Linked DNA regions of Homo sapiens. The protein of the gene in region 1 interacts with the protein of each later gene in a pairwise test. Each region holds a gene or a part of one and is shown in the gene's direction. Other genes may lie near its edges.

What was found. Proteins that work in one complex are often made in the same cells at the same time.
Region 2: the proteins of NCS1 (region 1) and CREM interact in binary tests that used the Homo sapiens proteins (3 or more experiments, as listed by UniProt).
Region 3: the proteins of NCS1 (region 1) and ZC3H10 interact in binary tests that used the Homo sapiens proteins (3 or more experiments, as listed by UniProt).

What each region holds. Positions count from the first base shown.
Region 1 is NC_000009.12:130,167,757-130,175,580, forward strand, and holds the start of NCS1 (neuronal calcium sensor 1), read left to right. Parts: upstream 1-4,647; 5' UTR 4,648-4,907; coding exon 4,908-4,971; intron 4,972-7,824. UniProt on the Homo sapiens protein: Neuronal calcium sensor, regulator of G protein-coupled receptor phosphorylation in a calcium dependent manner. Directly regulates GRK1 (RHOK), but not GRK2 to GRK5. Can substitute for calmodulin. Stimulates PI4KB kinase activity.
Region 2 is NC_000010.11:35,122,762-35,130,156, forward strand, and holds the start of CREM (cAMP-responsive element modulator), read left to right. Parts: upstream 1-4,084; 5' UTR 4,085-4,432; intron 4,433-4,465; exon of another isoform or gene 4,466-4,806; intron 4,807-7,395.
Region 3 is NC_000012.12:56,121,266-56,128,325, forward strand, and holds the end of ZC3H10 (zinc finger CCCH domain-containing protein 10), read left to right. Parts: coding exon 1-602; 3' UTR 603-6,249; downstream 6,250-7,060. Other genes in the region: ESYT1 (extended synaptotagmin-1), read left to right, coding at 7,055-7,060. UniProt on the Homo sapiens protein: Specific regulator of miRNA biogenesis. Binds, via the C3H1-type zinc finger domains, to the binding motif 5'-GCAGCGC-3' on microRNA pri-MIR143 and negatively regulates the processing to mature microRNA.

The sequences.
Region 1 (7,824 bases):
CGTTTTTTTCACTTAAACATCAAAATCCTGTAGTGGAAAGACCTGGAACCTCTGCTTCTTGGATTGTGACCAGGGCATCAGAGAGCAGATCTGAGTCCTTCATGTGGTGGCTCAGGCTCAGCATTTTAAGCTGATGTGGGCAGGGACCTTTTCAGCTAAAAACCAGGTCAGGAAGAGGGATGGCTGGTCCCAAGGCCCAGCACTTTCCCACATGCCGTCCCCACATCACGGGGGTCCAAAACACTCCCCCCACCCTTCCCCAAGCAGTTCCCATGCTTCTCCCTCCTTCCTAAAACACATTCTTCCCTGGCTTCCAGCACTGCCTCCTGGTGGTCTTCCTACCTCCCCGTCAGCACCCCTGCTGTCTCCCTGGCCTGACCTTCTCAGCCTACACTCCCTCCCTCGGTGACCTCATCCTGTCTCAAGACTTTAAAGGGCATGTCTGCCAGGATGGCTCCCAGTGCATACCTGCAGCCTGGACCTGTCCCTGAACTCCAGACGCCTGTGCCACCTGCTTTCTCCCGTCACCACTTGGACATCTGGTAAGCATTTCACACCTCACCTGTCTGCAGTAAGATTCCAGCTCTTCCTGTCCAAACCTGTCCACTCCCCATCTTAGCAAATAGAAACCCCACTCTTCCATAAGCTCAGCTCAGAAAGCCCGGCCTTGTCCTTGAGTCCCCTCTCTCCGTCTCATACCTTCCAGCCCCCAAATGTCTCTCCTGCCTTCCAGCCCCCAAATGTCTCTCCTGCCTTCCAGCCCCAAATGTCTCTCCTGCCTCTAAGCATACTCCATCCACTCCTGCTTTCCCCTGAAGCCCCTGCCCAGGCTGACCCCCGGGCCCCAGGAAGTCTTCAGATGGGGATGGACTTGCTGGCCTGGAGGAGCTCATTCTGCAGAGGAGGTAGGATGGGCCTCAGCTGGAGGGATCTGGTGTAGACTTGGGAGCAGAATGTCTCCCAACCTTGAAGACCAACTCAGAGGAGACAGCAGTGAGGGAATCCTGCTCTCACTACCCTCAAAATGTCACCGAGTCTAGCCAGTTCTGTGTCCTCCAAGGCCACACTACACGTGGCCACCACCACCTCCTGGCTGATGATACAGTGACCTCTGGCAGTTCCCCATTCTTACCCATCTGTGCCTGGAGTCAGTTCTCCCTGCAGCAGCAGCTGAAGGGGCCGGCTAAGCACATCAGATCCCTTGAGTCGGGAGTCTGACCTTGCCTCCCCACTCTGCACCTCGCCCTTTAAAGCCCACCTTACTGTACCCCTGCAAGGCCACACACAAGGCTGTACGTGGGCCAGCTGGGCTCCACCTGGGCTCTGCCACGGGGCCTGGGCGATGCTCCCCCTCTGCTCTCAGTGAGGCTCCTTCTCTAGCCAACACCACACACCTCCGGCCCTCAGCCCTTCCCATTTTCCTTCCCGCCTCATTTTTCTTCTTTCACCTGTGAGATACATTCTACTCATGCAGCGTATTTATGGTTTCTTTTTTCTTTTCTTTTCCTTCCTTCCTTCCTTCCTTCCTTCCTTCCTTCCTTCCTTCCTTCCTTCTTTCCTTCTTTCTTTCTTTCTTTCAGACAAAGTCTTGCTCTGTCACTCAGGCTGGAATGCAGTGGTGCGATCTCAGCTCACCACAACCTCTGCCTCCCAGGTTCAAGTGATTCTCCTGTCTCAGCCTCCCAAGTAGCTGGGACTACAGGCGTGCACCACCATGCCCGGCTAATTTTTGTATTTTTAGTAGAGACGGGGTTTCATTATGTTGGCCAGGCTGGTCTTGAACTCCTGACCTCGTGATCCGCCCGCCTTGGCCTCCCAAAGTGCTGGGATTACAGGCATGAGCCACTGCGCCCCCGTGTTTCTGGTTTCTATGCTGCACTTATGCATGTTGTTTATTGTTTATAGCACTCTCCCCTCACGAAAGTGTAAGGTCCCTGATGGCAGGGATCTGGTCTATGTCCCCAGGGCACATAGTAGGTGCTTAGTAAACATGTCCCGAATGATGGGATGAATCTGTGAAGTCCCTGAGTTCCTTGGCAGGTGTTCCCATGTATGTTCCCCCACCCTCTCCATTCCTTGCATGGTGTTTGTTGCCAGTGTGATTTTGTGATCGCTGTGCAGCAGGTCGGGTCAGATCCGTGAGCTCCCATGTTGGTCTCAGTGCCCAGCACGGCACCTGGCACAGGGGCAGTGAGCAAGAAATACTCACAGGATGAGTACCTGGGTTTCTTGTGTGTGTGTGTGAATGCATGTGAGTGTGTGAGTGTGTGTGTGTGTGTGTTGAGACAGGGTCTCATCACCTAGGCTGGAGTACAGTGGTGCCAACAGGGCTTACTTCAGCCTCTACCTCCTAGGCTCAAACAATCCTCCTGCCTCAGCCTCCCGAGTAGCTGAGACTACAGGCATGTGCCACCATGCCCAGTTAATTTTTTTTTGTATTTTTTGTAGGAATGGGGTTTCACCATGTTGCCCAGGCTGGTCTTGAACTCCTGAGCTCGAGCCATCCACCTGCCTTGTCCTCCCAAAGTGCTGTGATTATAGGCATGAGCCACCATGCCTGGCCTGCCTTCCCTCCCTCCCTCCCTTCCTTCCCTCCTTCCTTCCTTCCTTTCTCTTTCTTTTTTTCTCTTCTCTTTTCATGTGTGTGTGTTTGTGTGTGTGTGTGTGTGTGAGAGAGAGAGAGAGAGAGAGAGTCAGGGTCTTTCTCTGTCACCCAGGCTGGAATGCAGTGGCACAATGACGGCTCACTGCAGCCTCGCCCTGCTGGGTTCAAGTGATCCTTCCACTTCAGCCACCCGAGTAACGGGGAGTTAGGCATGTGTCACCAAGCCCAGCTAACTTTTAAAAATTTTTGTAGAGATGAGGTCTCCCCTGTCAGGCTGGTCTTGAACTCCTAAGCTCAAGTAATCCTTCCACCTCAGCCTCTCAAAGTGCTGGGATTACCAGCATGAGCCACTGCACCCAGCCTGAGCACCTGGGTTTCTAAAGGGCTTTAACTACTACTGCTGTCATCCAGCCAGGCCCTGGTTCCCGTGCTGGCTCTCCCTCCTCCCAGGCAGGATGCTCAGCACAGTCTGGTCAACTGTTAGCCCCCCACTGTGGGCCCCTCACTGCTGTCCACTCTGAGTTGGTCCTCAAGGTTGGGACATTCTGCTCCCAGGTCTACACCAGATCCCTCCAACTGGGCCCACCTCCTCTGCAGAATGAGCTCCCCAAGCCAGCAAGTCCATCCCCATCTGAAGACTTCCTGGGGCCTGGGGCTCAGCCTGGGCAGGGGCTTCAGGGGAAAGCAGGAGTGGATGGAGTATGCTTAGAGGCAGGAGAGATATTTGGGAGCTGGAAGGCACTCGGCCCTGCTCAGGGTTCCTCTGAGCTTTCTGGACCCTCCGAGGTTAGAACACTGTGGAAAGAAGGGAGAAAGAGACCCCACTCCTGCCTCATCCCTGCTAGCCCCGGGGAGGGCTGCCTCATCCTCCCCGCTCTCTCCCCTACCCCAGGGCCCCAGCACCGGGTGTCATTCTTTCCTCCGTCCTTCGCTCATTCACAGAGATTTGCTGGGTAACACCTCAGGCGGCCTTCTGGGTTATGGAGATGCCTCTGCCCTCTGGGAGGGTGTTCTCCCATGGAAGAGACAAACAGGATGCAGAAAACATAGGTGACGTTTGTGATGGATGTGAAGGAGAGAAACTAAAGCCGAAAAGGATAGGAGAGTTCTCAAGATATGATGATATGTTGGATGAGGTGGACCGGGAAGGCCATGCTGGACCTACCACCTGAACCACACCCCCCTACGCGAATCCACTGGCCTCTGTCCATTCAGGTGGAGCCTGTCACCCCAGCCTCGGCTCAGAGAAACAGCTCTGAGCAGCTCTGACCTGTCACTCCAGCAGCTCTGACCCATCACTCTCTGCTGAAGTCCTTTCATGGGCGCTGGTGGGCAGGGGCCCAGCTCCTCGGCGAGGGGCCTCTCCTGGCCTGCCCCGTGGGCCCTGCCCTTCTCCCAGGTCCCCTGTGCCTGCAGCCGTGCGCAAGCCCGCAAGCCGGGGAACTCTCCCTCGGGCATGCAGGCCTCCCCGCCTCTCCAGGTTGCCTGGGCCAGAACGCTTCTCCATCCACCTCCCTTCCTGACCCTGGGTTTGGAGGTCTCCTGCCCCCAGGCCGAGAGTAGGTGCTCCCACCGCTACCTGCCGCATCCCGCACAGCCCCCTGCCCGCCCTGCGAGGGCTGGGGCACTCCTGTCCCGTGGGCCGCCGTGTCCCCGGCACCCCATGAATCCGTGTCGAATGAATGAATGTCTCCGGGCCGGGACCTGGCCTCATTCACATCCGATCTTCCGGGCCCTCCCCGCCGCGGCGGGGGCCGGAGCGCCAGGGCTGGATTCGGGGAGGGGGTGGCGGGGGTGGCTGCCCCGCCCTGGGGCCGCGTTGAGCCGAGGGGACGCCCCTCCGGCTGGCTGGCGAGGCCGGGGTCCAGCTGGCGGAGGCCGCGGCCAGGCGGGTGCGGGGCGGGAGGTGGCGCCGGGCGCTGAGTGGCGGCTCCGGGTCCACCCCTGGCGCGCGGGTGCGGGCGGGAGGGGGGAGGCGGGAGGCGGGGAGCGCAGGGGCGGCGGCAGGCGGGAGGCAGCAGCGAGCATGTGCCGCGGAGCCCAGTAACCAGGGACGACCGCGGCCACACCGCGCCGGCGCCGGCGCCCAGCCCAGGCAGCCCCGCGCCGCGGCGCCCGGACCGCCCGGGCCTGCCCAGCGGCCGCCCCACGCCCCGGGCGCCCCGGCGCCGACAGCCGCGCAGCGCAGCGCGGGCGCCGCAGACAAAGGCGCGGCCCCGGCCCGGCCCGCCCGGCCCAGCCGCTCCTGCTGGGCGCCCCAACCGGGTCCGGCCCGGGGGGGCGGGGGCCGCGGCCGCCGAGGATGGGGAAATCCAACAGCAAGTTGAAGCCCGAAGTTGTGGAGGAGCTGACCAGGAAGACCTACTGTGAGTGCTCCCAGCCCCCAGCCCGCGCCCCGCGGTCACCCCCACACCCACCGCCCCCGCCCCCGCCCCCCGGACCCGCGCGCTACCCGCTCCGCGCTGCCGCCTCCGCTCCGTCCTCCCCGCCCGGCCTCCAATGTGGACCCCTCGGAGGTTCCCGGGCCGCGCCCCTGCCCCCCGCCCGGCCCCATTGTTCTGGCACCCCCAGCCCGGGGAGTGCGCGCCGGTCGGCGTGCGCGGCGCCACCCCTAGGTCCGGAGGGGCAGCCCCAGCCCCCTGGCGGCCCCCTCTCCGCAGAGCTGTCCCAACGGGCAGGGGCTGTTGCCAGGGTGGGGCGGTGGTCCCGGGAGGGGGCGCCCGGCTGCGCGGAGCCGACTGGCACGAGCGCGCGGGGCTGGTGATTCATGCATCACGATGCCGCCGCCGCCGCTGCTGCGAGATTGGCCTGTCGCCCCCTCCCTGGCCCCGTTCGTGTGGGGGGGGGGGTGGCGAGACTTGGCACAGCGCTCGTCGTGCGGTGACGGCGGTGAAGGGTCCCCGGCACCCTGTGGGTTGCAGCACTTACAGGCTGGATTCTCCCTGGCCCCATCTCTGTCTGCCACACCGGGAAGTGGGTTTCTACAGCCCGGGTCATCTGGGCCGCGTGTGATCATTAGCTGTCGCGGGCTGCCCGGAGGAGGATGGCCTGTCCTTTCTGGGCGTCTCCAGATCAGCCTCAGTGTGTCTCCCTCCACTTGCCTAACTTCACAACTCTGCAGTCCCCTTGCAGTCCTAGTTTCTCCATACCAGGCTTCCCCCTTCCCTGCAGCCTCTCCGGAGGTGCCCTGGCATACCAGGGGTTAATGGTAATGGGTCCAGACCACCCAGGGGATTGCCAGAGGGAAGGCTTCAGCATCGGGGTCTGGAAGGACCTCTGCCTGGGTGTTTGACTTGGAAGGGGACAGTGGTTCTGGGCTTGGGTTGGAATTCAGAACCCATCCCCGGGCAGCTGCGTGGGCCCAGGCCCTCTGCACCACCCCTGGAGGCAGCAGCTTGACCGCCAGCCCCATGTGTTGATGGAGGCTGGGGAGGCAGCTCCTGGTGGTGCATTGCACAACCTCTGCTCCCCGCTTCCCCCCACTCCATCGGCCTTCTGGGCACGTCTGCAGGTCTGTCCAAGCCCACGCTTCAGCTCCATGCCCCTCACCCCTCATGCTTGGAACAAAGGGGGCTTTCCTGAGCGGGTGCTAGTCTGCTGCGAGGTGCTGGCCCTTCTCCTGTGGAATCCTGCAGCATGGAGCTCACATCCCAAGAGCTGCTACCTGGAAGGGGTGAAGCCCCTGGGCACAGGGGCTGTTCTCACCCTCTCTCCAAGGTGGGCAGGTGGGTGGCCCATTCCAGTCTGGCTGCTGTTTTGTGAGATTCGCTGGGGACTCCTTCAAGCTAAGTCCAGATGTGGCCCACAGCCGCCAGCAGGTGGACTTCCTGGGTCCCTGTGCCGGGGGAGGGTGAGGACACCGTGGGCTCCATCAGGAGTGGTGGGCATGGGCTGCACGGGATGCCTCCATCATGGTGGGACAGGGGAGTGAAGCCAGGTTTCCTGCTCATCGAGCATGTCACGTGCCAAGCTCTTGGCATCATTAGCACCTCGACTCTGCCACAACTGCTCTACCAGGCTGGGTGCTGCTACGATCTCCATTTACAGATGGGGAAACTAAGGCTCAGAGGGGCAAAGTGGCATTCCCATGATCCCACAGCTAGTGACCAGGCAGTGCCAGGACTTGAACTCCGGTCTGTCCTGCTCCAAGGCTAGTGAGAGACTTCAGAGCTCGTGCCAAGAGCTCTTCTGGGCCAGGCACAGTGGCTCACGCCTGTAATCCCAGCACTTTGGGAGGCCGAGGCGGGTGGACCAGCCTGACCAACGTGGAGAAACCCCCATCTCTACTAAAAATACAAAATTAGCTGGGCATGGTGGCACATGCCTGTAATCCCAGCTACTCGGGAGGCTGAGGCAGGAGAATCGCTTGAACCTGGGAGGCGGAGGTTGCGGTGAGGTGAGATTGCTCCAAGAGGGAAACTCTGTCTCCAAAAAAAAAAAAAAAAAGCTCTGCTGGGTGTCTTTTTCTGGCTTTTGCTAGAAGCCCATGATGGTGGATTCTAAATGGGAAGGGCCTGGGGTGATAGTCCTGTCCGGCCCCCTCCTCCGGGCAGATCTGTCAACTTTAAGAGAAGTTGAGTCAACAAAGCTTTGTTAGGAACTGGCCCTTGTGGTGCTGGGCTGGGCTATTTTTAAAGGCCTTTGGAGACGTGGAACAGTTTTGGGCAGAGAGAGAGTTGGCCTGGGTACTTTTCCTCTGTCGAAGCCCTTATTAGGGGTGGGCCGTTGGAGGTGGCGGTGGGTTCATTGGCCTCCTGTCTGCCTCCCGCGCTGACGTCAGCTCCCTAGTGCAGGCCCTTGTGTGTGGAGCTCACAGCTGTGTTCCCCCCATGTGTTGGCCTTTAGTAGGTTCACAGAATGAAAAGTCTCCCAACAGGACAAGCAGAGAAAGCTTCCAGCTTGTTCTCCCGCCCCCAGATGGGCTTCCTTCTGATGGGGAGTGGAGCCATCTGCTCTTTGTTCTGGGGGATTCTGTGTATGGGGTCAAGAGAAGCGCCCCAGGAAGGACTCTCAAATGTCAGAATCTCCTGGTTGATTAATAAACATGAAGGTACCTGGGCTGCCCTCCCGGATTTCCGATTCTTTAGGTCTGGCTGGGGCCCAGGAATTTGCATCCTTGACACGTGTTTGTGCTGCAGATGGTGGTCCTGGGGAGCCCGGATTGAAGACCACAGTTCCAGTGTATGCTGGGGGTCCTAGCCCACCTCATGCATAGCTGG
Region 2 (7,395 bases), on another chromosome or scaffold:
TAAGTAGCTGGGATTACAGGCATGCGCCACCATGCCCAGCTTATTTTTGTATTTTTAGTAGAGATGGGGTTTTGCCATATTAGCCAGGCTGTTTGTTCTCAAACTCCTCACCTCAAGTGATCTGCTCACCTCAGCCTCCCAATGTGCTAGAATTATAGGCGTGGGCCACTGTGCCTGGCCAATATCCCCATTTTAGAGAACCCATCTATATAAAAAAATTAAAAAAATTAGCCAGGCATGGTGGTGCACACCTGTAGTCCTAGCTACTCAGGAGGCTGAGGTGGGAGGATTGCTTGAGCCTGGGAGGTCAAGACTGCAGTGAGCTGTGACGGCACCACTGCACTCCAGCCAGGGTGACAGAGTGAGATCCGATCTACAAACAAGCAAAACATAACAAAAAACAAAACAAAACAAAACAAAGGACTTCATGCCAAACTTAGTTACACTCTGTCAGCTAATAACATCTCACTGGTGTTTCTGCTTCAATTAAAATGTCATTTATTTTTAAAATATATAAAGCATTCTTGCAGTACACAATTCAAGAGGCCACCAAAGATAATTCACAGTCTCCTTTCACTTCTGTTCCTTAAGTTTCAGTCCCTCCTAGTCACTGTAGATTTTCTAAGAGAAATCACATCACCAGAGCTGTATCTAAGGAAAATGAATCAGACAGAAATACTTAGGATGAACTATAATGGAAGTACCAGATGGGTAATAGTGGGAATAAAAAAAAAAGGGATGGATGCAAGTTTCTACAGGCAAAAGCAACAGGACTTAGCATTTAGCATAGGGCCTGGAACATAGCAGGCACTTCAAAATATTTTCTATGTGGCTCCTGAATGACATGAGTAGAAGAATGACCAAAATCGTTTCAAGGTGTAGAGGCAGGATGACAAGGAGCTGAAAAGTGCCATTAACATTGCTAAAACAACAATAAAAAATCAAGATTCAGGTATGAAAGGGGAAGAAGACAAGACATGTAGTTTTGAACCTATGAGTTGGAAATGCTCATGGGCCATGTAAGTGAGAACTGTCAGGTGTTTGGAAATGTGACCTGGTGCTAATGAATGAAGTTGGAAGCTTTGGGTATAAATTTTAGAATTATCTTTCAAAAAAATTGGGTATGATTAGATAACTAAAGAAAATACTGTTTGAGGACAGTATAGAAGATGATGTCCAAGGACAGAAAATTAGTAACTGTCTACATTAGGGAGACAAAGATGAGTGAAACCATGAGAGCCAAGTATCATGAAAATTCAGGAGGGAGACTATGTTAAGAAAGTGGCAGGCTTATGCCTGTAATCCCAACACTTTGGGAAGCCGAGGTGGGAGGATCGCTTTAGACTAGGTACTTGAAGCTGAATGAGCTATGATTGCACCACTGTACTCTAACCTGGGTGACAGAGCGAGACTCTGCCTCTAAGTAAATACATTTAAAAAATAAGGCAGTAGTCATTGGTAGTATCTGATGAGGAAAATAGGTCAAGTAGAATGAAAAATGAGAAAAAGTGGTCAGATTTAGTCATCAGAAAGGCGACAGACAAGTGCAATGGCTCATGCCTATAATCCCAGCACTTTCAGAGGCTAAGGTGGAAGGATTGCTTAAGCCCAGGAGTTCCAGACTAGCCTGGACAAGAGACTCCATGTCTACATATAAAAATAAAAATTAAATTAAAAAAAAAAGAGACGGAAGAGGGCAAAAATTTGGCAGGAAATAACAAACAAATGGGTGGTGAAGAAGTGAATACAACCCCTGCCTTGCCTTCTTCTCTTGAGAAATCTGAAGGTGAGGGGATGGCAAGGGATGGAACAGTAAGCAAATGGGCAAAAAATGAAATGTAAATGTGCAACCCGGAATTGGCAACTCTGTGGCCTTCCTTATAGGGCTAGCAGTGCCAACAGTTTTCAAGAGGCACGATACTAACACATTTGTAGGGAAAGGAGCCAAGAGGACGAAAAAGGCTGTAGGTATGACTCTTGGTAATTGAGCAAGATCTGATATGGGAAAGAAATGACATCTAACTTACAGTTGGATTCGGAGAGGAAAAAGAGGTGCTCCTCCCGACCCAGAAAGGGAGGGAAAGTTTAAGATATTTTGAAGTGAGGAGGGAATATAAGGGTGTGACTGACAGCCCGTATTTTCTCAGAAAAGTAGGTGACCTAGTTGTCCCTCCCCAACAGAGAATTAACTATCACCTAGGTGAGGAGCCCCAAAAGCTAGACACTGGACTAACGTAAACATGAGTAGGTTTTTAAGTATTTATCTTATGGCAGATATTTTTTAAAATCTACAATAATCCTAACAGGTAGGTACTATTTTTCTTCCCATTTAAAAACCTTATGCTTCCCCTAAGAGGATATGACACTTGCCCACAGCTAACAAGCATACATTTAAACCCAGATCCAACTGCATGGTTTTTAAGTCTATTACATCTTACAGCAAGGGTATAGCAGAGGCCATGAACTGATGGGCTTGTAAGTATGTGTATCTCACCTCCAGTATTGATCTTTGTAAAAAAACAGATGAACAAAAAAATATGGTTTGTGCTTTCTGAACTTTATAATTAAGACTACATACATATGGGAGTAAAATACTGGCAAGAAAGGAAACCGTAGAGCAAATACTTTGCAAATAAGAAATTGCCATTCCTTTGATTCTTTTTGATTCATATGAACTCCTGTTACAGAGACAATTGTTGTGGATACATTCCCTTTGACCTACGAAAATTAGATTTGAACAAAGGTTCAGATTGGATTTAGATTAAGTCCTGCTCAGTGAAAATTATGAAAACACTCTGACACTACAGTAACTGATATGAAATAATAAATCCTCACTTAACATTGTCAATAGCTTCTTAGAAACTGGTTTTCAGTGAAACAACGTACAATGAAACCGATTTTTGTTATCATCAATATTATAACGAAATGAAAACAACACTGAATGAAAATTTTTTTGTGGACCTGCTGTAAGTTGTTTGGCTTAAAGCCATGATTTCTAAGAACCTATCGTTAAGTGAGGACCTACTGTACTCTATAACCATGCTGCTATTCTTTATTCCTGATATCCCATTACTTTTTTTATTTTTGAGATGGAGCCTCGCTCTGTCACCCAGACTGGAGTGCAGTGGAACGATCTCAGCTCACTGCAGCCTTGACCTCCCAGGTTCAAGCGATTCTCCTGCCTCAGCCTCCCAACTAGCTGGGACTACAGGCGTCTGCCACCACTCCTAGCTAATTTTTGTATTTTTAGTAGAGATGGGGTTTCACCATGTTGGCCAGGCTGCTCCTGACCTCAGGTGATCTGCCCATGTCTGCCTCCCAAAATGCTGGGATTACAGGCGTGAGCCCCCGGCCGACCTTTCTAATCTAAAAAAAAAAAAAGAGATGAAGTCTCACTGTGTTCCCTAGGCTGGTCTCCTGGGCTCAAGCGATCCTCCCACCTTGGCCTCCCGAAGTGTTGGGATTACAGGCCCGAGCCAGCGGGCCCAGCATGCGGACCATTTCCAGTCAAATACTGGGATAAACTGCAATAAATGACCCTAAGAAGCAGGTGAATTGTCTCAGGAGCTCAAGCTTCTTTTGGAGAAGGACTCAACCAGCTGTGACTGGCTGTGAATATGGAGGAAAAGGGCCACTAGTCAAGGTATGTAGATAGCTTTTAGAAGTCAGAAGAAGCACGCCTGCAGTCCCAGCTACTCAGGAGGCTGAGGCCGGAGGATCGCTTGAGCCTGGGGAGATAGAGGTTGCAGAGAGCCGAGACCACGCCACTGCAGCCCAGCCTGGACAGAGGTGAGACGCTCGCGGACCTTAGCTTGGGGTTGGCGGCGTTAGGAAGAAACCGACCTCGAGACCCTGAAGACCTGACAACAGCCGTTACTCTGGCTGACAAGTCATTGGATTTCTGGCGCACGCGCGGCGCGGCACGGGCAGCTTCCGGTTTCCAGCCTTGCCCCCGCCCCTACCTTCCGCCCCACCTCCAGGCTAGTTCCTCCTCTTGGCCCCGCCCCCTGACCTTCCTTCTCCCTATCCCTAGGCCCCGCCCCCTGACCCGCACCTTCCCGCCGCCCCTCCCCGGTTCCATTTCATTGTTGGATTGTGGCGCTTCACTCCTGCTGGCGGCCGGCAGGGGGCGGAGTTCGAGCCTGGATTTTTTTCCTCGGGGCCTCCCCCGGGAGGCCGTCCCGGCGTGGGGGAGGGGAGGACGGGGCGGGAGGACGCGGTTCGGTCGGCTGCAGCGCTACTTTTGGTCCGGGGTCGGCAGGGAGGCCGCGGCTACCGCATCACAGCTGACGTGAGGACTACGTGGGGCCGCTGCCGGCTCCGGGTTGCTGGGCGGCGGCGCCGCTGCTGAGCGGCGGTCGGGCTCGCCGTCTCCACCTCCTCGCGTCCGTAATCAGTGACGAGGTCCGCTACGTAAATCCCTTTGCGGCGGGTAAGTGGTGCGTCGGCTCCGGCCCCGAGACCCAGCAGCGGGCGACGCGGCGCAGGAGGTGGAGGTGGAGGCAGGAGGCGGAGCGGAGCCGGGTGCGGTGGAGCAGCAGAGGCCGAGCGGAGCCGTGGGCGGCGGGCCGGGACCCCGGGGCCGGGCCAAGGACTGGCGGGGCAGCCGCGAGTTCACCTGACGCGGCCCCTCGCTCGGCGCCCCCGAGGCCGCCGGCTCGCCGCCCCACGCCCGCTTCGTGCGCTCAGCTGCCCCGGGACCCGCCTGCCTCCTCGCGAACTTGGGACGAGTTGGAAAATCCTCCCTGAGAGAGCCGTGCGGCTCAGGGGAGCGGTTTAACTCGGAAAAGGAAAAGGAATCCAGAAGTAAGGACCTCGGATTTGAGTGCCCCCAGCGCCTCTGCCCCACTTTACGAGCGCAGTTTAGACGAAAGCGGACGCAGCCCGTTTTCCCCCAAAACCTGGGCCGGAGGGCCTCGCAGCTGAGTCATTCGGTCCCGGGCGCGGGCAGTCTCCGGAGTGGGAAGGGCAGAGCCGCGACCGCTCTCGGAAGGCGCATTTTCCCTTCTGCCTGAGTCTTGCCTTTTTAGGGCCATCTGGTAAGGTTTCCAGAGCCTGTTGAATCTGGGGAATAAACACATTATTAAACATACTTTTTTTTTTTGAGACGGAGTCTTGCTGTTACCCAGGCTGGAATGCAGGGGCATGATCTCGGCTCACTGCAGCCTCTGCCTCCTGGGTTCAAGCGATTCTCTTGCCTCAGCCTCCCGAGTAGCTGGGATTACAGGCATGCGCCACCACGCCTGCTAATTTTTGTATTTTTAGTAGAGATGGGGTTTTACCATGTTGGTCAGGCTGGTCTCGAACTCCTGACCTTCCACCCACCTCGGCCTCCCAAAGTGCTGGGATTACAGGCGTGAGCCGCCGCGCCTGGCCTCAGCATGTTTCTTGATCCTGTTGCGTTTTATTTGTATATCAGATACCTGAGTTTGAAATCACTTAGGGGTTTCCTGCATGCTGCTCAGTGAAGCAGCGGTGAGTTTGTAATCACATTTTAAGAAATTGGGACTTACAGGGCCAGTCTCAAAGTGTCACTGAAATTGAAAGAGCTCCTTTAACACTGTGGCTTACGTACGTGACTCAGTTTCCTTTCTACTTAATTTGCCGGGCAGATGAGGGTGTACCTTTCCCTTGAAACAAAGATCTAGATTGAACAGTGAGAGGTCCGCTGTGAACATTGCATCAGATTACATGAATAAACCACGCTGTTTTTTATTTGTTGTTTTTTTGTTTTTTGCTTTGAGCGCCACGTTTTTTTCCTAGTCTTTTTTTTTTTTTTTTTGAGACGGGGTCTCGCTCTGTCGCCCAGGCTGGAGTGCAGTGGTCCGCTCTCAGCTCACTGCAAGCTCCGCCTCCTGGGTTCACGCCATTCTCCTGCCTCAGCCTCCTGAGTAGCTGGGACTACAGGCGCCCGCCACCACGCCTGGCTAATTTTTTGTATTTTTAGTAGAAACGGGGTTTCACAGTGTTAGCCAGGATGGTCTCGATCTCCTGACCTCGTGATCCGCCCGCGTCGGCCTCCCAAAGTGCTGGGATTACAGGCATGAGCCACCGCTCCCGGCCTTTTTTTCCTAGTCTTGATTCTTTTTTTGGATAAACTTTCCCTTCCTAAGTCATAGTAGTCTTAAAGTCTTTCAATCTAAAGTAATTTTTTTCCCAAAGGAAGGCAAATTGCACACAATATGTTTTGGCCAATAAATGCTAAGTATTAAAACTGATGTTTAAAGAACTATGTATTGATCCCAACACAGCTTTAACAAATATATTAAAATGGTTTTGATCCTGAATGAGTAAACACTTAAAGCATTGTCAGTATTCACACAACTTTGGCGAATCTGTAAATAGATGAATATAACACTTACTTTCCCAGTGAATTGGTGATGGATATGGAATCATTTTGGTGATTGCGAAGTTGTAATTACGGTGATGTTTTGTGTACATATTTTGGTGACAGTATATGAATAAATTTTTATTGAATGCGTAAACATAGGACATTTTTATTTTTAGTCTTTTTGTTTTTGCATTGTCCCTGAAAGTTAATGAAATTTACTTCTTCTTCCTGAATTTTAAACTCTGGAATCCATAGTTAATAGGCTGTATTCCAGTTTCCTACTCAGGTGAGTCACTGCCTAATCAAAATACAAAATCTTGCTTAGGGTTATGACCATTTCATGAAAAGTAGGGAAGAGTTTTGAATTATTAACATATATAAGGAATCCTGACTGAATCTTTACCAACATAGACATATATTTCTGATCCTTTTTCTCCCAAGTTGTATTCCCTGCAAATTAAGTATTGGGCCAGAAGATTGAGCTAGGTTTATTGTTTAAGTGGATGTTCTTACTGAAAAGCTCTCAAATGTCCTGTTCCTTTTAGATAGACTTCTTAAAATAAAACTGAACAGTGCAAACACTTAATAGCTGAACGATTGAGAGACGTTATTTTTTAGAGCAGTTTTACAACCATTGATATTTTTATATTTCCTTACCAACATTGATTGATAAGGAAATAAGCCTGAAATACCGAATTTTATTGTTTCTACTTAAGTAAATGGATGGATTCCATATGTAAAAGTCAGCTTTGAAAATAGTTATTATTGTACATTGAATACAGTTTTGATATTATCAACACAGGAACTTAAAAATCCAGTTTAGGCCGGGCATGGTGGCTCACGCCTGTAATCCCAGCATTTTGGGAGGCTGAGGCAGGCGGATCGCCTGAGGTCAGGAGTTCAAGACCAGCCTAACCAACATGAAGAAACCCCGTCTCTACTAAAAATACAAAATTAGCCGGGCATGGTGGCCCATGCCTGTAATTGTGGCTACTTGGGAGGCTGAGACTGGAGAATTGCTTGAACCCCGGAGGCGGAGGGTGCAGTGAGCCAAGATCAAGCCA
Region 3 (7,060 bases), on another chromosome or scaffold:
TGGAGTGCAGACTGCTAGAGGAGGAGAATGCCATGCTCAGGAAGCGGGTAGAGGAGTTAAAGAAGCAGGTCAGCAACCTGCTGGCCACCAATGAGGTACTACTGGAACAAAATGCTCAGTTCCGCAATCAGGCCAAGGTCATAACCCTGAGCTCCACTGCACCAGCGACTGAGCAGACTCTGGCCCCCACTGTGGGCACTGTTGCCACTTTTAACCATGGCATTGCCCAGACTCACACTACTCTCAGCAGCCAGGCTCTACAGCCTCGTCCAGTGTCCCAGCAAGAACTGGTGGCCCCTGCTGGAGCTCCAGCTGCTCCCCCAACTAATGCTGCACCTCCTGCTGCTCCACCACCCCCACCCCCACACTTGACCCCAGAGATCACGCCACTGTCAGCTGCCCTGGCTCAAACAATTGCCCAGGGAATGGCACCTCCACCTGTCTCCATGGCTCCTGTGGCTGTATCTGTGGCTCCTGTGGCCCCTGTGGCTGTATCGATGGCCCAACCCTTGGCAGGAATCACAATGAGCCACACCACCACTCCCATGGTGACTTACCCTATCGCTTCCCAGAGCATGCGCATCACGGCCATGCCACACTGATGGGGCTAATGGACACTCCCCTGGTATAGCCTCGCAGGGCTGGGGTCAGGGGGCCCTTGCCCACTCACCTAGCCTTCCCCATCCCTGTCTGAAGGGCTCCCTTGAGAACTAGGACAAGAGACTACAAGGAGTATGTCCTGAGGAGGGGTTGGGATGGTGTGTTTTCTCTCACCTCCCTTTTATGAGGGTCCTCTTGTCCATCTTCAAGCCTCACAGTGGGGGCTTGCAGAGGAGTGCAGACTGAAGCCAGCAGAGAGGAAGGACTGACTGAGGGGCTGTGTCCTCTTATGGGAATTTGGGAACATCCCTCGTCTTGTCCTCTCTTCTGCACAGCACAGGTTCCAGCACTGGTTTTAGAAGAAAAAAATACCCTGCCCAGAGGGAAAGCCAGGAAAGATTGGGAAGTGGGTGGTCAGGAGAGAAGGCCTGATAGGAGCCTTCAGACAATTTGGGTCCTAGTTGCTTGGGTTGGACAATACAGGAATTGCTTCTGGGCCCTGGGAAAGCTGGGACCATAGTGCTCCAGCCCAAAGACTAGGGGAGCATTCATTACCCTAGTTTGACCTGAAAATCCATAGGGCAGGGCCCACTACTTTCCAAAGAAATAAAAGAACAATTATTTTTAACAAATGGAGGCAGTGAAAACTTGCTTAGCTATTCTGTGTGGAAGATGGGAGCAGTAAATAGATCTCATGCCAAAATGGGATAAAGACCCCAGCCTCACATAGCTTTGGTAAGATGGATAGAAGCCAGTGAAGAAGGGTAGGGACCCAGAACAAGACCAAATGGGGCTTTGGGGAAGGCACTTTATGGGGTAAAAGCTTTGGAGCCACCCAGTCTAGTTTTAAAAATAGTCCCATCTGTTTCTGGTCTCTGTCTGTATGTGCTATTCCCAGGTTGCCTCAGTAACCAGGGCTCCTAGGGTCATTTAGCAGGGCAGGCAGTAAGGAGAGTGTATTTGCTGAAATGCGGATGGGATGTTACATAGTTGACAGATCCTTATTCAAACAGAGCAGGACAGGTGGAGTTGATGGCCATTGAGTTGATGGCAGTTGCCGCTCAGTTGATGGCAGTTAATGTCCCTCCTACCCCACCCCTTCAGTGGCCAGTTCCTGAAGCCTTCAAGGCTTGGGAGGTCTGGGAAAAGAGAGTCCTTCTAGGGACACAAGCCTCAGGGTCCATCCCTTTCCTCTGTCTCCACATAGGACCAGAAGTTTTAAATCTACTTAAGTCAGTAAGGCCAGGGGCCCCAATAGTCAAACCTCAGTTCCTCCTCAGCTCACGGCTGATGTAGGGAAAACAACTCAGGTGTCTAGTCTAATGGGACAGTAGATTTGGGGGTAGAGAGTGATCCTGGATTGTGTTCCCCCTCATCATGTCTCCTGCTACCTCTTGCTTTCTTGTCTGGTTGATCACTCAGGTCACATCTGGGATTGGAGATGGTGGGCTAGGTCAAGGCCAGTCATTAAAAAAAAAAGCCTAAAGACTAAAAGTGGGCTAACATTGTGGATTTTAGAAACAACACATTGATAAGCTTAATGTTTTTTGGGACACAATTTTTTTTTTTTTTTTTGAGATGGAGTCTTGCCCAGTCACCAGACCGGAGTGCAGTGGCGCAATCTCGGTTCACTGTAACCTGCGCCTCCTGGGTTCAAGCGATTCTCTTGCGTCAGCCTCCCGAGTAGCTGAGACTACAGGCGCCCGCCACCACGCCCGGCTAATTTTTTTATTTTTAGTAGAGACGGGGTTTCATCGTGTTGGCCAGAATGGTCTCTATCTCTCGTGATCCGCCCGCCTCAGCCTCCCAAAGTGCTGGGATTACAGGCATGAACCACCGTGCCCGGCAATTCTAGACTATTAAAAGAGATGGTTTAAGAGCATTTAGAGAAGAATGTAACCATAGATACCAACATGAATTCTCAGTCAAATCCTGACTGACTTTATTTCCTCCTTGCCAGGTTATCTCCAAAGAGGTAGATTTGGGAAATTTTAGACATTGTATGTCTTGTATGTATTTACTCCAGCTGAAGACCACCAAGAATACACCTGGTAATTGAGCAAGTTGGGTTTAATGCTCATTGCAGTGAGGGGGAGGGCTCACCATTGGGGATAACGTGGTGTGTCTCAGCATGAGGGTGTTAGGAACGACTTAGAGAACTTAGACTTTGGTTAAGTGATTTTGGGGAAGATTCAAGAAAGTGGGTGTTCTTTTGGATTGGGTGCTGTTAAGGGAATCCAGGATAATTGGGTAGCTTGTCTAGAAGAAGGGCAGACAAGTGAACCTAAGCACAGTCGATGATGAAGTCACTCACTAGCTGGGAAAGGGGATGTTTGCTGTTTTGTGGTTTGCACACTGACCTTGTTTTGTGCTTAAACAAAATTGTGTAGTGATTTTGTTTTTTGTCTCACTTCATCGCAGTCACTGAGTGACCTTGTCTGATGCTGGTGTTTTGTGAGATTGTTTGTGTCCAAGAGAACTCATTGGCTACCTGTGAGCACCAGGTCAGCCCTAACAGCTCTGAAGCCTGGCTGTGTCAGGCCAGTTCCCAGATTACAGGAGCTACTTTCCTCTCTCTCACCTGCTAAGTCATCACAGATAAGAGGAAAATTACGGGTCAGTTAATCGTAGCATTTTTTCCATGCAAATGGCTCTGGTTAAAAAATAATGAGAAAAAAATAGTAGCATTTGGTAGAATCAAACTGAACACTTGTACTTAGTGTTGGTTAGCGCATTTATGTTAGAGAAATCTCTGTTCTCTAGTGATAAGCCCAAGGGCTATGTTTTATTGTAAAAAGAAAAAACCCAACTCGGGTAAACATGTAAAAAACCCATTTATCAACAGTAACACAGGAAGAGCTAAATAATATTCAAAGTGTCTGTAACTTGAATTGACTAAAACACTGGAGCACTCTCACACTAAAAAATTGCTTAGATCTTGAACTAGTTTGAGGAACAATGTTAGAGATTTATATTAGCAATAATTCACATGAGAACAAACTGGGACTTCCAGTTGGCTGCAAAAAAATAGAATCTTAGCCCTCAAGATGTCCATTTATAAATATTTATTAAGAGCCTGCTATGTTCTAGGCATCTTTCTAGGAGCTCCATAAGGGTAGTAGAACCTTGGTAATAGATTACAAATACAGCAGTTCTATGTTCTGCCTAAGTGTAACCACTTAGTAGTGTGTTGTTCTAAATGTAATTTTTAAAGAGGGCCATTGACAAACCAGTGTGTTGCTAGAAAAAAAAGGCTGGCAAGAGAAAGCTTCAAATAGAAGTCTTCAAATATTTGAAGGGCTGCCCAGTGGAGGAAGATCCTGTTTGCTACACAGGAAGTAAAAAGGGATTTCTAGAATAATGGCTAACTTTTTTTTTTTTTTTTTTTTTGAGACGGAGTCTAGCTGTGTGGCCCAGGCTTCAGTGCAGTGGCACGATCTCTGCTCACTGCAAACTCTGCCTCCAGGGTTTACGCCATTCTGCTGCCTCAGCCTCCAGAGTAGCTGGGACTATAGGTGCCCAGCTAATTTTCTTTTTGTATTTTTAGTAGAGACGGGGTTTCACCGTGTTAGCCAGGACGGTCTCCATATCCTGACCTCGTGATCCGCCCACCTCGGCCTCCCAAAGTGCTGGGATTACAGGCGTTGAGCCACCGCACCCAGCCGGCTAGCATTTGTTGACTGCTTAATATAAGCCAAGGCTCTGTGCTAGGCACTTTACATGCAACATCTCATTGACACAATGGGTAATATTATTGTACCCATTTTACAGAGGAGAAAGCAGGCTTAAAAAGTAACCTGCCCAGGGTTCTGCAAGTAAGGAATGGGGCCAGGAATCTATTCAGGCAGTCTCACTCCAGACGACAAAAGAAAGTTCTAATGATATAGCCATCCAACAAAGCGATCACTACTTGGCAGTAATTTTTTTTTTTTTTTTTTGAGACGGAGTATCACTCTGTTGCCCAGGCTGGAGTGTAGTGGCGTGATCTCGGCCCACTGCAGCCTCCGCCTCTCGGGTTCAAGTGATTCTCCTGCCTCAGCCTCCCAAGTAGAGTAACTGGGATTACAGGTACATGCCACCATGCTCGGCTAATTTTTGTATTTTTAGTAGAGACGGGGTTTCGCCATGTTGGCCAGGCTGGTCTTGAACTCCTGACCTCAGGTGATCCAACTGCCTCGGCCTTCCAAAGTGCTGGGATTACAGGCATGAGCCACCGCGACTGGCTTGGCAGTAACTTTTGAGGAATAAAGAATACAGAAGGAGTTTCCTCAAATCTTGTTGCCCTTCCCATCTTTGTGAGCTGAGATCAGAGTACCGTATCTCACCCTCTGCCTCTTGGAGGTGATTATGGTTTACATATAAATGCAGATTGCAAGTCCAGGAAGTTTACTCTCTCTCCTCCTGTAGGCCTCATCCTGTAAGACACTTCCTCTAACAAATGGGCATCCCTTCCTGTTGTCCACTTACTGCTTATCACCACCAGGTGGCACCTGGGCAGCAGAATTGTCAGTGGGCGGGGACCCACCCTGTTTACTTGTGTTGGTAACTGCATTGCAGCTGCTGATCCTGTGGCTCCTGGGCCCCAGCTGGGACAAGAACTTCCTGAGGATGAAGTTTTATCCCCTATATAATTTCTGATGATCTGGATGAGGTGAGGAAGGGAGAAGTTTGGAAAAGAACCTCCATAGGTCACCCTCTCCATTCCCCCATTCTCAGGAACCTCCTTGCCTACTCCAGTGCTTGGCAAATTTCAGTTTATAGAGAGGTTTCTCTCTAAGGTTCATCCATGTTCCTTCTGTAGTTCTGCTTTATCAGTTGGTGAGCAGGTCACTCATAATTCCTCCAATTTCCTTGTTTCCCTTTTCTACCTGCTTACCTCTGGGAATATGGAGGATATAGGAGACAGAATATTGTTTCTTAAATAGTTCTGCAAACTGAATGAAGCAGTCAAGATACTGCTAGCCCTAGGGAAGTAGAGAAAAGGAAGTGAAAAAATTTAAGTGATAGAGGCTGAGCAGGGACAGGTTTTAAGCAGCTTTGGTAAACACAGGCTGATGAAATCTATGCCCTGCAGAACCAGATAAAATTTATCAGCTGCAGGCCTCATCCTGTAAGACACTTCCTCTAAGAAATGGCTAGTTTCTTCCCAGTGATCAACCCCAGTTCTTCTGCTGCATCTGACAGATTTACATAATATGCCCCATATATACTGCATTAAAAGGTAATCATCTTATGACCAACACTTCCCTCATCAACTTCCAATTAGTCTAGTTCCTAGATCCTAGGACAACACTCCACCTCTAACGCCAGTTAACTAGTAACAATAGTCATCGGTGTACCCTGCACTTTTTCCTTCCTAAACCTACACCGTACACTGTGGGACTGCACTAGTTCTGCACCTGACTGTATGGCAAACCTTCCTTCTAACTCAGGCAAATGTGAAAAGGAATTGTCTTTCCCTTACTCTTGATCCCTCATTTTAGTGTCCTAGAAGTTCTTCAGGGTCAGAAAATTATTGGAAAATGTAATAATTTGCGCTGCCTCCCTCCCTTTTGGAGCCAACTAGTCTTACATCCATCCTCTAAGATAGAGATGACTTACTAACTCTTGGAAATTTCCAAAAAGAAATAAAGCCTCACTTTCTATTCACTCTGCTTTTTTTCCCCCTTTCCCTGAAGGCTGGATTATCTCAACTCTGTAATTCTCTGACTCTCCAGTTTTCTCCAGGGTCAGTCGTTACACCACACAAAGAAGGTAGGGGATTAGGGACGGGATAGACGGGGTTAGTTTTCAAACACTTTCATTCCAAATACGATCGTATCCTTTCCTTTTGTAAGGGCAGGCAGGAAAAAGTTGAAGGATAAGGAATGTGCTTAGAGTATGAAAACTAGAGAAAGTCGGCAAAAGAACATATATATATATCCCAGACCAAATCCTGCCAAACCGAATGAGTAGAGGGAAATCCTGAAGCTCCACAACCCCTCAACTTCGCAACTTGGGCTTTCTCCAAAACCAAGAAATTGGCGGTGCAGCTCTGCATGACGTCATACCACAGGCACTCCAATCCCACGTGGGGGAGCTCTTGGTCCCGCCTCTCCTGAAATGGTGCGCCACGCCTCCTCCTCTTTATTACCAATCGAATGCCGCCCCTGAGCCCCTTTCTTCCTTTTCCCGCCATCTCAGACCTCCCATCTTGGCCTTCGGGCCCAATCAGGGAGGCCCTACCTATCCGAAACCCGGTCCGTTCCCCGCGGAAGAGGGGTGGAGTTTCAACCTTTTAACTCCACCTTGGTCTGTGCAGCGCGGACCAACCCAAATCGCCAGAAAGGAGGGGCGTGGCTTGAAGTCCCCTCCTCCATCCCGGGGATCACGTTTTGCCTGGGGGAGCTGATCGCAAGACTAGGCAACCTCCAGCCAGTCCCTGGGTCGGGCGGATCCTCCCAGAGGTGGCACAATGGAG